2 separate regions of the Homo sapiens genome follow, and region 1 is linked to region 2. Evidence: fine-mapped expression QTL. Tissue or cell type: whole blood. Region 2 holds a variant in brackets; the other region holds the start of a gene. All regions are shown on one strand. Distances are from middle to middle.

Region 1 (8,000 bases), 99 kb after region 2:
CTCAAAAAAAAAAAAAAAAAAAGAAGAAGAAGAAGAAGAAGAAGATGGATACTGGGCTGGGCGCGGTGGCTCACGCCTGTAATCCCAGCACTTTGGGAGGCCGAGATGGACAGATCACCTGAGGTCAGGAGTTTGAGACCAGCCTGGGCAACATGGCAAAACCCCGTCTCTACTAAAAATACAAAAATTAGCTGGGCATGGTGGTGCATGCGTGCCTGTAATCCCAGCTACTTGGAAGGCTGAGGCAGGAGAATCTCTTGAACCCAGGAGGCAGAGGTTGCAGTGAGCTGAGATCCAGCCACTACACTCCCACCTGGGCAAAAAAATGAGACTCTGTCTCAAAAGAAGAAGAAGGAGGAGGAGGAGGAGGAGACTGGAAGGGATGTTAGAGGCCATTTGGGGCAGCCTTCCCACCTCCCACCCACTCCCTCATCTTGGTAGATGGAGAAAGTGGGGTTCAGAAAGATGAGATAACTTGCCCAGGGTCACACTGTGAGTTAGGTATGGGCTGAGCAGATGAGATTCCAGCTCCACGAACTTTCTGAATCCAGGGAGCATGGGAGGGGCTGTCAGGGGGAGCTCTGGGCCCCCACCCTTCAAGCCAGTATCCCCATTTTTATCTGTTTGACATACATCAGATGCCACACAAGATTGCAAATGAAAAAGAAGTCCCCAAAGCTCAAAAACCCTGGCTCTAGACCATCCTTCATCTGCCCACTTCAACAGCCTTCCCTTATCTCCTCCCTCCTCCTCCTCTTTTCCTCCTCCTGCCTCTGGCAAAATTTTCAGAAAACAAACAAACAAACAAAAACATGCTCATGAGAAGAAGCAGACAGATGTGGTCAGCCCAGGCCTGAACACATTGGTCTCCAGTCTGGGAGAGACAGAGCCTCTCTATCTAAAGAAAAGCATTCTCAGGGTCCAAGCTGACAATGATGCAGTGTGCCGTGCTGACAGGTAATGAGCATCCCATCAGTTAAGGTGAGTAAGGCTAGATGATCTGTTCAAACACTAGCAGCAATTGTCTCTAGATGGTAGAATTCACAGGCTTTTGTTGCTGGGTTTTGTTTTTTGTTTTTTTTTGAGATGGTGTTACAGGATCTTTGGGGTGTCATTTTCTGGCCGGAAACCTCTGTGGCTGGTGGCACCTTTGCCCAAGTTTTGCTCAGGCCCACTGGGCTTGTTTCACTCACTCCTCCTGGCAGGCAGCACTCAGCTCACATTACCAGCCTGGGTTCCACATCTGCCCAGGGCAAGTCAGGCATGGAACAGTGAAGGGTGTGTGAGTGAACATGGGGTCTGGCCACTGCACACAGTCAGACATGCCGGCTGCTGCAGCGGGGTGAGCAGCTCCAGGTGCCAGCATGGGCGCCAGCTCTCTGAGAGGTTGTGGCTAGACCAAGTACACCACAAGCAGCTTCCACAGCTGGCACCGGGGAACACGGTGGCACCCAGAAGCTTCGAGATGCCAGGAACCACAGGGCCCCGAAAAGGGAGTCACAGCTCCAGCTTGGGGAGCTCCCAGGTCTGGGTTCCCCAGAGGGCCGCAGCTCTTCTTTCCTTCCCTTCACCTGCATCATGGCAAGCAAGGGGCATGTTTCAGCCTTGTTTGTGTTACAGCTCTTTCAGCCCCACCATTTGATGGGTCCCAAGTTCTTATCCTGCAACCAGGAAGAATGAGGTATGCAGACAAGTGGGGAGTGAGCAAGACGAAGAGGAGCTTTACTGAGCGATAGAACAGCTCAGCCTCCTGCAGAGCCTCCCTCAGGGGGCAGCTCCTTTCCACAGCCAGGGTGTCCTGATGAGTGTTCAGCTGCTAGCAGAGAGGAGACCCTGGAATGGGAAGCTCCTCTCTGCAGGCAGGTCATCCTGTCGACTTTCCAGCTCTCAGAAGAGGGAAGACCCTGGAATGGGAAGCTCCTTTCTGCAGGCAAGTTGTTCTGCCATCTCTGCAGCTCTCAGCAGAGAGGAGGCCCTGGAGCGGGTAGCTCCTCTCGGCAGCTGGTCATCCAATGTCTGCCCAGCTCTGGCTGAGCCTGAAGCTTTCATGAGCCTCAGAGAGGAGGAAGTGCATACTGATTGGTCCATGGGTGGCTATAGGCAAGCCCAGAAAATACACCATAAGTTCCCACTCTGGTGTGTGGGACTGGCAGCCTGGCCCCCAGCCTTGAGGCCCTCCCTGGCTTGAAGGTAGGGCCTCACCAGGGACCCATCCCCTTCCACCCAGGAGCCTGTCTGTCTCCTGCTGCTGTTCATGGTGCCCAGGCTGTTCATGCCAAGGAGCGTCTGCAGGCCAGTGCCGAGCTGCCCTCAGTTTCCCCTTGGCTTTCCTTCCATGCTAGTCAGTGCCCAAAGTCCAGAGGGGGCCAAGGCAGCAGGGGTCTAGTGTGTCAGCACTGCCCCAAGCATGCCCACACCCAGCCAGGCTGCGACAGCACCCAGGCTCAGCACCAACTTTGCTCTAAGATCAGAGTGGGCGCCAAGAGGAGGGAGAAGCCAGGCAGTGGGAGCAGACACTTCTGAGCCTGAAGGGTGGGGCGGGGGGCCTTCCCGGGCCCCCAAGATTGCAGGGATGCCTGGGTCCACAGCTGCAGTTTAGGCAGCTGCAGCTGCATGGGGGATGGCGGGGGCCCCCACCTGCTCCATGAAGCAGGATCAGCTGTGGTTTGGCAGCTGCAGTGGTTCCCAGGAGGGCGGGGTTCCCACTGTCCCCAGCTCCCACTGGCTACATGGAGCATGCAGCCCTGGCCGTGCCTCCCTGCTGCAGCCAGTGTGATGACAGCAGCCATTCCAGACGGCCCGCCATTGCCATCTCTTTTTTTTTTTTTTTTTTTTGAGATGGGGTCTTGTTCTGTCTCCCAGGCAGGAGTGCAGTGGTAAGATCAAAGCTCACTGCAGCCTCAACCTCCTGGGCTCTAGCAATCCTCCCAGCTCAGCCTCCCAAATAGCTGGGACTACACAGGTGCATGCTACCACACCTGGCTATTTTTTAAATTTTTAGTAGAGATGGAGTTTCACCATGTTGGCCAGGCTGGTCTCGAACTCCTGACCTCAAGTGATCCGCCTGCCTTGACCTCCCAAAATGCTGGGATTACAGGCGTGAGCCAAAGCACCTAGACTTGCTGTTTTTTTAAATGTTGGCAAAAGCTAGTGACTAAGTGTTCACCATGTGCCAAGTGTTTTGTATGTGCAAGTCATTAAAATGTTATAATAATCAGATGATATAGGACCCCGTTCCCAGTGTACAGATAAAACTGAGGGCTCAGGAGGTCAAGTAATTTCCCAAAGACATGCAACTAGGAAGCAGCAAGTCTAGAAACAGATTGCTGTGCTTCCTTCTCACCAATGCACTGTTCTTTCTTCTTTGTATTTTCCAAGCTTTTGGCAATGAATTGCATGTCACTTTCATAATCATGAAAAGTCCTACAAGGGACAGATTTTTTTAAAGATTCCTTCCGCTCTGGTGTTCTGTGCTTCGCTGGTTCTCAGAACCTCACCCTGCACGGCCTCCACCCCACATCCTCACAGGCACTGGCCTCACTGCCCCCACTCCCACACCAGCTGTTGCTGGGGCAGGACGCCCAATGTCCCAGTCTTGCTGAAGTCTGCTTGAAATGTCCCTGGTGAGCTTCTGGCCACTGGGGAAGTTCAGGGGGCAGGTCTGAAGAAGGGGAAGTAGGAAGGGATGTGAAACTTGGCCACAGCCTGGAGCCACTCCTGCTGGGCAGCCCACAGGGTCCCTGGGCGGAGGGCAGGAGCATCCAGTTGGAGTTGACAACAGGAGGCAGGTGAGGCCAGAGTCCCAGAGGGAGGGGGCTGCAGAGTTCTGGGACCCAGGGGAGCTGGCCCAGGAGGCTGGGCAGCTGAGGCAGGGAGGGAGGGAAATAACTGTGCCTGATTCTAGGACAGGGATGGGGGTGCAGCACTGATCCAGGACCCAGAATGGGTGAGTGGAGGGACCTTAACTCCTTGAGCCAGGGCTTGGGGGAGGGTGAGAGGCGATGAGTTAGACCTAACAACTGAAGGGTAAGACCAGGGTTCCTGGGTCCTGGCCCCATAACACATAAGAAACCAGGAAAAGCCTGGGGTGCTAGAGCTGGCAGTGGGACCCAGCAGAGGGGACTGTAGGGGCAGCCAGTCACCCATGCTCAGGTGGATGCTGAAAGGCGCTGAGCATGCAGAAGAGTGAGCAGGTGTCGCTTTGGGCGTTTGTGAATTCCTGTGTGTATGCAGAGCTCCACCATCTGGGTGAGCCAGTGTTAATTAAATAAGGAGCAGGCGCTCAATACATATTTGTTCAATGAAATCGATTACCTGTGGGAGTGTATGAATGTGTGTGTCCGTGCAAGTGAGGGACAGGGTCTATTTGGGTATCAGTTGTGTGTCTAGGGGGGTATAGTGGATTTCTGAGTTTGCCTACTGTGTTTTGTAGGTGCGTGGATGAGAGCTGTGTTTGTGTGAGTGTGTGAAGATGTGGGTGTGCTCTGTTGCATGTGTGGATGTGTGTGAGTTTGTGGTTCTGTGTATATGCGTGGGGTCCTGGGGCTGGATTGAGAGTGGACATTGAGAGCCCCAGAGGGTGCATGTGCACTTGGGGAGGACTGTGCATATATCATTGTGTGCATGGGACTCAAGGGTGGGAGCTGGGTGTGAGTGTGATGTCCAACCTGCCCAGGCCCTCCCGTGTCTCCACAGAGGCATCATGGAGGGTCCCCGGGGATGGCTGGTGCTCTGTGTGCTGGCCATATCGCTGGCCTCTATGGTGACCGAGGACTTGTGCCGAGCACCAGACGGGAAGAAAGGGGAGGCAGGAAGACCTGGCAGACGGGGGCGGCCAGGCCTCAAGGGGGAGCAAGGGGAGCCGGGTAAGCACCCTTCCTCGGGACCCAGCCCCTTGGACCTTGGCCTGACTTGGCCTCCAGGGTGAAGGCTTGGGGTGGCACTGAGAATCAGGAGTCCGTCTGCCCCCAGTGCCCCATGAATCCTCTCCAGTTTGTACTTGGCCACAGGGGCTAAGGGAGGCCTAGCCTTCTCGGGCCATGTCCTCAGGCCTCTCCACTCCCTGTGTACTGCCTGGGCCCTCTTTCTTCGGCTTCACCTTCCCCCTCTGGAGAATGACTTGCTTTGACCAGTGAAAGTGAAAGTTCTGGCAGCAATGCTGAGTCCTTGTTCATGTTTCTCTTGCCAGAAAAACGAGGACTCAGAGTTTAGACTCAGGAGCCACTGCCTTGCTGTGTGACCTCAAGCAAGTTATTGGCCCTCTCTGAGCCTAAGTGGGCTCATCTGTAAAATGGAAAAATAACACTGCCTGGCACATAGAGAGGGATCAAATAACTGAATCTGTCCCTTCACTTCCTTCCAGCACCCCCAACACTGTCCCTGCTTCCCCCTCCCCAGCCCCTTCAGGCTTCAGAGACTCACATTCTAGAAGAAAGGCCAGGGGTAATGGAAAAGGGAAGAGGTCCTGACCAAAGTAGAAAGGGAGTCTCATGGAATCACCCTGGGCCTCCTAGTCCAAAGCAGACCAGAAGGATCACATAGACATTTGCAGTAATTTGCATCCGGGCATCCTACATGTGGTACCTGAACCTGAAGCCAAGTCAAGGTCAGTGCCCCAGAGGGGTATGAAGTCCTCAGCCTTGGGCAGGAACACAGCAGAGCAGCCAGAGTTCCATGCATTTCCCAGAACCTGACACTTTCCCAAGTGCCTGTTCACACTTCTCTCCACTTTACAGATGAAGTGGAGGCTCAGAGAGGTTGAGACACTTGCCCAAAGTCACACAGCCAATCAGAATCGATGTCCTGAAGGCCCAGGTGCTTCATTGCCCTTTATCCCATAGACTCAGGGGGTCCAGCTCTCTCCCTGAGGACCAGTAGGCATTGGACTCTCACTTCCAATCTGGCATTTCTCCCCACAGGGGCCCCTGGCATCCGGACAGGCATCCAAGGCCTTAAAGGAGACCAGGGGGAACCTGGGCCCTCTGGAAACCCCGGCAAGGTGGGCTACCCAGGGCCCAGCGGCCCCCTCGGAGCCCGTGGCATCCCGGGAATTAAAGGCACCAAGGGCAGCCCAGGAAACATCAAGGACCAGCCGAGGCCAGCCTTCTCCGCCATTCGGCGGAACCCCCCAATGGGGGGCAACGTGGTCATCTTCGACACGGTCATCACCAACCAGGAAGAACCGTACCAGAACCACTCCGGCCGATTCGTCTGCACTGTACCCGGCTACTACTACTTCACCTTCCAGGTGCTGTCCCAGTGGGAAATCTGCCTGTCCATCGTCTCCTCCTCAAGGGGCCAGGTCCGACGCTCCCTGGGCTTCTGTGACACCACCAACAAGGGGCTCTTCCAGGTGGTGTCAGGGGGCATGGTGCTTCAGCTGCAGCAGGGTGACCAGGTCTGGGTTGAAAAAGACCCCAAAAAGGGTCACATTTACCAGGGCTCTGAGGCCGACAGCGTCTTCAGCGGCTTCCTCATCTTCCCATCTGCCTGAGCCAGGGAAGGACCCCCTCCCCCACCCACCTCTCTGGCTTCCATGCTCCGCCTGTAAAATGGGGGCGCTATTGCTTCAGCTGCTGAAGGGAGGGGGCTGGCTCTGAGAGCCCCAGGACTGGCTGCCCCGTGACACATGCTCTAAGAAGCTCGTTTCTTAGACCTCTTCCTGGAATAAACATCTGTGTCTGTGTCTGCTGAACATGAGCTTCAGTTGCTACTCGGAGCATTGAGAGGGAGGCCTAAGAATAATAACAATCCAGTGCTTAAGAGTCAGGCCCGTCCTTAGTATGTTTTTTTGTTTTTTGTTTTTTAAGATGGAGTTTCTCTCTTGTCACCCAGGCTGGAGTGCAATGGAGTGATCTTCGGTCACTGCAACCTCCGCCTCCCGGGTTCAAGCAACTCTCCTGCCTCAGTCTCCCAGGTAGCTGGGATTACAGGTACCTGCCACCATGCCCCGTGAATTTTTTGTATTTTTAGTAGAGAAGGGGTTTCACCATGTTGGCCAGGCTGGTCTCGAACTCCTGACCTCAAGTGATCCTCCAGCCTTGGCCTCCCAAAGTGCTGGGATTAGAGGCATGTGCCACCACGCCCAGCCCATTCTTAGTATTTCACATGATGTGTTTAGCATGTCCTAGCAGCCTCATCTACCCAGGTTCGAATCCTGATGCCACCACTTATTAGCTGTCTAATCATGTGCATGTTAACCCAGCTCTGAGATCTCAGTTTCCTCATCTGTAAAGTGGGACTGATGATCCCAAAGGGTCATTGGGAAGATTAAATGACTTAATATATGAAAATTGTAGAGCAGTGCTCAGTTTATAACAAGGGCTATGGAAATTTTTGCTATTATTATATTTTATTTAATCTTTATGACCAAGCTCTGGGTATGGTATGATGGCCCTACATTACAGATGATGAAACTGAGGCTGCGAGGAGTAGGCATCAATCAGCAAATCAGCATCTAAGGGGAGGATCTGGGGGCCAGTCACAGTGGCTCACGCCTGTAATCCCAACACTTTGGGAGGCCAAGGCGGGCAGATCACTAGAGGTCAGGAGTTCGAGACCAGCCTGGCCAACATATAGTGAAACCCTGTCTCTACTAAAAATACAAAAATTAGCTAGGGGTGGTGGCGCACACCTGTAGTCCCAGCTACTTGGGAAGCTGAGGCAGGAGAATCACTTGAATCAGGGAGGCAGAGGTTACAGTGAGCTGAGATCGCGCCACTGCACTCCAGCCTGGGTGACAGAGCGAGACTCCATCTCTTAAAAAAAAAAAAAAAAAAAAAAAAATTGGAGGGTGGGGAGGCGGGAAGGAGCTGAGATTTGAACCCAAGTCTTACTGATGCCCAAGCCTGTGTTTAACCACTACCCTCACCAGCCTCCCTGGCTTCTATGAAGCACATGACACATCACACAGGTGCTTTTTCAACCCTGTGTTGGGAAGGCAGGGGCAGGAATCAGAGAGGGGAAGCAATTGGCCCAAGGGCACTCCGCAGTCCTTCCTG
Region 2 (8,260 bases):
CTTTGTCCTCTGAGGAGAGATTAGCAGAAGGCTAAGAGCAGCCAGCCAGGCCCCACCACTCCCAGCTGCTCTGATCAAACACCATTCCTGCCGCTTCTTCTAGCTCTGGCTCCCCCGGCGCAGGCCAGAAACAGCTGATCAAACACATCAGGACAAGGTCAGTCCAGGGACCCACGGTCCCCTCCAGGGGAGATTTCACAGCCCTGCCATCAGGAGGGTCTGATAAAAATGGGCAGGGGGCGGGGAAGGGGGCCTGTGGGGCTGGCACAGGACCAAACAGCTTTTCATTTTGTTTAAGGTTGAAACCCCTGTGCTCCACACAGGGTCCACACCAAGCCAGCATTTCCAGAAAGGCAGAGCTGGAGCTGAGGAGACGGGAGCTGTGTGTGCACGTATGAGTATGTGGGGGTGAGAGAGATGTCAAGAGCACATGTGGGTTTGGGAGCATGGGATTATTAGATTGTCACAGGATGACTTAAGATCCTCCCCCGCTAAACTGCGACCCCTTCAAGGGCAAGGACTGTGCATTATCCTCGTTCTCTCTCTTACATGCACATGTGTGTACCCAGCAGTTAGCCTGGCACATCAGGTGCCTGATTGCACAGGTATGTTAGACCTGAAGTTCTGGGACTCGGTGAGGTCCTGTTACCGGGCTAAAATGGTGCCTGGCTCCCGCTCCTACAGGACTCATCAGCCAGGTAAGGATTATATATGAATGAGAAACAGATACCAAAACACCCATGTCTGTCCAGACTCAAGATCTAAAGATCCCAGCGCCTACAAATTCTGTGGGGGTTTTGGTTAGTTGGTTGATTGGTTGGTCTTTTTCATGGGTAGGGGAAGGAAGGGGAGGATTAATATTTTTTAGAAATAGGCCAGGCGCGATGGCTCATGCCTATAATCCCAGCACTTTGGGAAGCCGAGGCAGGTGGATCATCTGAGGTCAGGAGTTCGAGACCAGCCTGGACAACATGGTGAAACCCCATCTCTACTAAAAATATAAAATTAACCGGACGTGGTGTGCATGCCTGTAGTCTTAGCTACTTGGGAGGCTGAGTCAGGAGAATCACTTGAACCCAGGAGGCGGAGGCTACAGTGGGCTGAGATCACGCCACTGCGCTCCAGCCTGGAGAAGACAGAGCGAGACTCCATCTCAAAAAAAAAAAAAAAAAGAAATATCCTAATTAATAATTGGTGTTATTACATGCTTACCACACATTAGACACTGGATGAAGAGCTTTTTGTAATTTTTTGTTTTTTTGAGACAGAGTCTCACTCTGTTGCCCAGGTTGGATGGAGTGCAGTGGCACGATCTCAGCTCACTGCAACCTCCACCTCCCAGATTCAAACCATTCTCCTGCCTAAGCCTCCCAGGTCGCTGGGATTACAGGTGTGCACCACCACACCTGGCTAGTTTTTGTATTTTTAGTAGAAACAGTGTTTCACCTTGGTGGCCAGGCTGGTCTTGAATTCCTGACTTCAGGTGATCCACTTGCCTCGGCCTCCCGAAGTGCTGGGATTACAGGCATGAGCCACAGTGCCCAGCCCAGTAATTCTTATTTCTTAGAATTCTAGCACCAACTCCACAATGTAGGTGCTATTATTATCCCTGCATTACAGATGAGGAAACCAACACCAGAGAGGTGAAGTCGCTATGTAGCTAGAGAGCAGCATAGCTGGGGTCCAAACCCAGCTGTCTGACTCCAGAGTCTGCTCTTAAATCGCTTGCTATTTTTAAGCATTTCTTGTTTAATACCTAATCAGCCAGAAAATGTGGCTTATCCCCACTTCCTATGCCTTAAGCAGCCTTGCTGTCACACCTGGACTGTTGTCATAGAGCCAAGGACTCTCCACCTGCTTTCTCTCCTTTCCCGTCCCCTCTGTCCATCCTGCCTGAGACAGCCAGGCAGGCCTAAAACTGCTTTTATCAGCCAGAAATGTGTCCAGGAGCAAAGGGTCATGTCCTTTGCCTTGCGTGGGATCAGTGGCCTGGGTCCTGTCACTTTTTTGGACCCCATGCTCTTCAGTCTCACCGGTCCTCAGTTGACACTTGACAGCTCACTTGGGGCTCTTCCTTGAGATGCAGGACAGCCAGAGATCCTGGCACTGAGGAGACATGTCTCGTATAAGCAGGTAAGCAGCAGAATCGGGAGTAGGTCTGGGCTCTTCGGAGACCTGAGACCTGCGCTCCTCCCACTGCTGCAGTGGCACTGTGGAGCCTGCCTGGAACAAGCCCCTCCAGCCCAGGGGGCACACAGTCAATGCAGGGGGCGCATAGTCAATGCAGGGGGCTTCCTGGACCTCATGCTTCCCAACGGCTTGGGCCATGTGGCCCCAGTGGAGTTGGTTTCTTGGTCTGGCATCAGCAGAATGGGTTGTCTTTTGTTTTTTAACTTTAAGTTCAGGGATCCAAGTGTAGGTTTGTTACATAGGTAAACTCATGTCACAGAAATGGGTTGTACAGATTATTTCATCACCCAGGCATTAAGCCCTAGTACCTATGAGTTATTTTTCCTGATCCTCTCCCTCCTCCCACCCTGCACCCTCCAAAAGGCCCCAGTGTGTGTTGTACCCTCTATGTGTCCATGTGCTCTCATCATTTAGCTCCCACTAACAAGTGAGAACATGTGGTATTTATTTGGTTTTCTGTTCCTGTGTTAGTTTGCTAAGGATGATGGTCTCCAGCTCCATCCATGTCCCTGCAAACGACATGATCTCATTCTTTTTTATGGCTGAGGAGTGGGTCGTCTTACCCATATGGTGTCCCCATTTCTGTCCCAACCAGCGGTCAGTTGACTTGGAGCAGCAGAGGCCTCACCTGGTAGGAGTAGGGCTGTGGGGCAGGTGGAGCACGGAAAGAGAGGAGGCGGCAGATGCGTGACCCCCCTGGCCTGCCCTCCCTTTTGCATGGATAATGGTAGTCCCATAATGCCTTATTCTGGAATCACACTCTGCTATTTTTAGATACTTTCATATACATTATTTCTTTTGATCCTTACAGTCACATGAAAGTTTAGGTATCTTTATTGTTACCTCTTTTTACAGTAAAGGGATTCAGACAGTACAAGACCTCAGCCTTAGACGCAAGGCTCCTCCGCTAGTGAGAGGTGGAATTGGAGTCCAGGTTTTTGACACAGAACGCAGGATTTTCTCCACCTCGCTGTGTTGCCTGTTACACCTCCCTGTGTTTCACAGCACTTTCAGTCATTTACATGCTTGGTTCTGGCAGCAGTGCTCTGAGGCTGGAGGGGCGCAGATGATTATTTTGCAGATGAAGAAATCGAGGTTTCAGGACAGTTGGTTGTTCCATCACATGGTGAGTCAGTAGCAGAACTGCAGTGAGAACAGCTGGACCCAGCATTACATCCACTTGGCAAGGAGAAGTGCCTCTTAGGCCAGGCAAGTGAGGAGACTCAAGTCCAAGTCCTAGCAGCAGGGATGGGTGAGAGCCGCCATTTGTTGACTTCTGCTCTGGGCCAGAGCGTGTGTACCTCATCCCCAACGCAGGTGCCACACCCACAGTCACTGGCCGGTAGGACTCTCTGTGATGGCGACAGTGGTCCATTCTGCACTGTCCAGTGTGGGAGCCACTAGTCATGTGTGACTGTGGGGCACTTGAAATGTGTCTAGTGCACCTGAGGAACCATAGTTTTAATTTAAATAGTCCCATGTAGCTTCGTGGCTGCTGTTATTGGACAGCGTAGAACTGGATGAAGGCTCAGGGGGTTGAGGGTCACACAGGAAGTGGCTGAGTCCAGATTCAAGTCCAGATCTGTGAGATTGCAAAGCCTGTGGCATTTCCGTTGGCGCCCAGTGTCGGGAGGGAGATGCGCACGAGTGGTGGACATTGGCTGTGAGGTTCAGAAGGCTTCATTTCATTTGTGAAGGCTGCCCCTCACTCCCTGGCTGTGCGCTCGGACAGCCACATCACCGCTGTACCCTCCTGCATCTTCATCCTCGTCAGCGTTGATGCTGTTATATTGACCACCCGTCACCCCCAGGCTGGGCGCCGGGGCTCTACCTCCATCAGGACTGAGCCTGATACTGAATCTACAATAACACTACTGTGACCCCATTTCCCGGAGTCAATAGAGGCTCAAAAAGATTGAGAAACTTGCCCAAGGTCACCAGCTTTTACTGGAAGGGTCACATTGGCATAAATACAAA[A/G]TACCCTATTTTTGTTCCTTTTTCTCACCAGCTCCAGACCAGAGCTAAAGCGAAATTAGAAAGTGCCACAGAGGCAGCCAGGAAGCCCTCCCACTTCCCATCACACACTTCGCTGGCCCCTATCTTTGAGAAGACAGCATTGTACTGAGCATGCTGTCTGGGCACAGCCACTGCTCCCAGAGAGTGGGCAGAGGGCCAGGCACGCCACTCCTGGGGGGCAGCCTCGCCTGTGTGTTTGCAGCTTTCTCACAACTATTCTAGAAAGCACTTGCCTCAAGTAAATGCTTTTTTTAAAAGCATATGTAATCTTAAATACGATTTTTGTTTCATCATGGAACAAGATGTGTTAGTTCCAGCACACTTACAATGCAAGTCATGAGAAGACGCAATTCATTGTCACTCATGAGCTGTGTGACCTTGGTCGAGTCTTTTCAGCCCCACCCCCGCAAGTGGATTAGATAACCTCCACGAGCCCTCCTCCAACGTTTCTGATTCCTTGGGTAGCATGGGAAGTAGAGAAACCAGGGTTCTGGCTCGGACTGCCACTTTCACGGTGTGTGACTTACCTCTGAGCCTTGGGCTTCTCATCTGTAAGGATGCCATTCCTGTGGAGTGGGAGCGCCCAGCAAGATCTGGCACAAGAAGAGCCTGGCATGGGGCTGCCATGGGGCGCGTGCTCAGTGAAGGTCCTGATAACGCTTTTGTGCTGCATGCACAAGACCCAGCGATACCCCATGGCCCCATCTCAAGGAACAAGGAAGAGATGTTGGAAGAAGTCTCTGTCCTCAACTGGGAGGAGAAACATGCCCTCTTCGGGCCAAGATGGTGGCACCAGTGCTGAGAACAGCACCAAAGAGCCTCCTGTGGCAGCTTTCACTGCAGGGCAGCCTTGCCCCCTCACCTTAGTGGGTGTGGGCCTTGGGGGCTGTGCCCACCAGTGGCACAGCTGGGAGGATCTGGAAGGGACAGGTAACAGAAGCATTTAGTCCTGGAAGAGGGAGGTTTCCCAGAGCTGAGGGGAGGGCATGGCTCAAGAGAGGAGCAGGGCACGAGGACAGTGGCTCAGCCATCCCTGCCAGCCCTGGTCTGAAGCAAGCCTAGAGTCCAGGATAGCCCCCAGGCTGACAGTCAGGGATATGGAGTCAGATGGTCAAATGTCAACACTGTTGCTGCCCGGCACTGTGACTGAGCACGCCATTTAAGCTCTCTGAGCCTTATTTGCATCTTCTGTGAAATGGGGAGGGTAGGGGGTAGAATGTAATACCCAGGAAGGCCCCTGTGTGATGCCAGCCAGAGTGGGCTCAGTAGTGGTTATTAGTTTCCTGGGGCCTGACCCAGCTGTTGCAGGAGAAGTCTGTGCTGGGTGCTCTGGCCTCTGGTGTCCGTGAGGCAACAGAGAGGAGTGAGTCTGCTGCGATCCCCACTGCTGACCTCGGGAAGGCTGTGACCTCGGCGCCAACTGGGAGAACCAGGGCCTGAGGTCTGGGGATGCTGGAGTCCAAGTCTCTCGGGTTACGCCTGGCTGGCCGAGTGAACAAGACCAGAACCCCAGGTTTGGGGAGGGCTTCCTCATCTGACCACTCAGGAGCCCTGAGGATAGGATCCCCTGGACACCATGGGTCACTCCCATCTTCTGGTCAGAACCTTTCTCACAGGCCTTCCTGGGGACCTGGACCTAGACTGCCAGGGGGGCAGGGGGCACAGAGCCTCGAGGTTCCCAACATGGAACTGTGAGTACCCCCAGCCAAGCACACACACTCAGGGCCATCCTCCTCCCCATCCACCAACCCACACCCTCTGCCAGCCTTTCCCACCCAGCTTCCCCCCAGTCCTGCAAGCGCAGCCCAAATGTCTCCCACTGCAGAAAGTGGCCTCTGTGACCTCAGCCAGGGAACTCCTTCCCTGGACTCCTCCCATACTTTGTACAACCCATAGTATTGAGCATGTGGTCATGTGTGTTCATGTCTTTTTATTACTTTTTTCTGATAGAATATATGTAACAAAGTCTACCTTTTTAACCATTTTTAAGTGTCATGTTTAGTAGCATTAAGTACATTCTTACTGGTGCAACCACCATTACCACCTGTCTCCAGAACTTTTTCATCATTTCATACTGAAGCTCTGTATCCATCAAACATTCTCTTTGCCCCAGAAAGAAGCCTCGTATCTGTTGTCAGTCACTTCCTGTTCTCCTCTCCCTGAACCACCCCGACCCCCCACCCCACCACAGCAACCACCATTCTACCCGGTCTCTAGGAAATTAAGCGGTCTAGGTGTATCATAGAAGTAGAATCATACAGTATTTGTCTGTGTTCGTGTCTTTTTTTTTTTTTTTTTTTGAGACACGGTCTCTGTCGCCCAAGCTGGAGTGCAGCGGCGCCATCGTGGCTCGCTGCAGCCCCAATCTCCCAGGCTCAAGTGATCCTTATACCTCAGCTTCCTGTGCAGCTGGGACCACAGGTGGGGCCACCACTCTCGGCTAATTTTTTTTTAATTATTATTTTTAGTAGAGACGGGGTCGCACTATGTTGCCCAGACTGGTCTCGAACTACTGAGCTCAAGTGATCCTCCTGCTTTGGCCTTCCAAAGTGCTGGGATTACAGATGTGAGCCACCGCACCCAGCATATGTTCACGTCTTAATCCTCCACAGGGCCTTGTGACTAGTGACTGAGCAAAAAGAGCAAATGAAGAGGCAAAGAATGCTACCACCATGCCTGAGACTTCCTGAGACAGGCACAGTCCCCTGCCTCACCCAGCTCCAAAACTCCTAGAATTCATTCATTCCCTTATGATGGGCAGACAGCATTGTAGATGTGGAGACCCCACAGTGAACAGAACAGACTGCAGTCCCTGCCTTTATGGAGCTCACAGTTGAGTCAAGACAGTGACTACATATATAGTCTGCTAGATAATGGTGAGCCCCAGGGAGAAAAATTAAACTGGGGGGCAGGGGGCAGACAGGAAGTACCAGGCAATGTTGCAATTCCAGGGTGGCCAGGAAAGGCCTCGCTGATTCAATGACTTGAGCAAAGACCCGCTGGCTTTGAGGGAGTGGCCGTGTGAATGTCTAGGGAAGGATGTTCCTGGCAGAGGGACAGCCAGTGCAAAGGCCTGGAGGCAGGAACATGCACGGCCTGCTTGAGGATGCCTGGGAGGCCAGGGTGGCTGGAGCAGAGTGGGCATGGGAGAGGGTAGTAAGAGAGAAAGCGAGAAAGTGGTCAGGGCCCAGAGTATGCAGGGCCTTCTAGGTCATTTTAAGGCTGTGGCCAGTGAAGGGTTTTGAGCAGAGGTGCTGCAGCTGCTGTGCAGAGAATAAATATAAGGTGGGGAGTTGGGGGGTGGTGCTGGGAGGTTACTTAAGGGGCCATTGCAATATCTCATCGCAGCAGAATTTCATAAAAATGAAAATGAAGCCACAGCCAGAAAATATTTCTGAGTGGCTCCTTTGTTAGCCAAGCAAGGAAAATGATGATGTGGACACGGGTGACGGTGAGGAGTGATCAAGTGGCGCCCACCGGGTCCCCGGATGGACTAGATGTGGGATTTAAGGAAAAAGAGGTTCAAGGATGATTCCCAAGATTTTTGGTCTGAAAGTGGAAGCATGAAGTTGCCAGGTGCTATGCTGGGGACAACCTCAAGAAGGCAGGGAAGACAGGCAGAGCACACGGGGGATGCGGGCTGAGCTCGAGAGCCTACTGCACGTCCAGGTAGAGAGATGCGAGTCTGGACTCATGTGGTAAGGTCACCCTATCCACTGTTCCTCTTTCGTTTTCTGGGTCCAGGCTGGCACCTGGCATCACCAGAGCTGCAGCTCAGACTCACTCTTTCCTCGGCGTGGGGCAGAGACCAGGTGTCACAATGTGCCTCTTCTTGGTCAATCTGTCCATCCATTCATCCAATACGCCCTGCTCATCCCACCTATGTCAGGCACAGTACCAAATACAGGAAGGAGTAAGACGTGGCCTCTCCCCTCCACAGGCCCACAGTCTGGTTACAAATTCTCTACCCTCCTCCTCCAGCTTCTGCCCCTCATTCCTCCCTTGGCCTCAGTCCTTCTCCATCGGTAAAGCGTCTTTGGATCAGACAGTCTTT

What was found. PIP is the estimated chance that this variant, and not a neighbour inherited with it, causes the effect.
Region 1: it holds the start of C1QA, and the variant in region 2 is fine-mapped to the expression of C1QA in whole blood (TOPMed, PIP 0.98).

What each region holds. Positions count from the first base shown.
Region 1 is chr1:22,632,915-22,640,914 of GRCh38, forward strand. It overlaps C1QA (complement C1q A chain), which reads left to right and starts at 3,714. Exons shown (of 3, transcript NM_015991.4): 1 at 3,714-3,788; 2 at 4,696-4,865; 3 at 5,919-6,764. The coding sequence starts at 4,703. The coding sequence ends at 6,493. MIR6127 (microRNA 6127) reads right to left here and starts at 452; the gene lies at 344-452.
Region 2 is chr1:22,533,333-22,541,592 of GRCh38, forward strand. No RefSeq gene overlaps it. Among named protein-coding and RNA genes, the nearest start is that of EPHA8, 26 kb to the right of the region's middle. The variant A/G (reference allele first, on the strand shown) is at 4,168.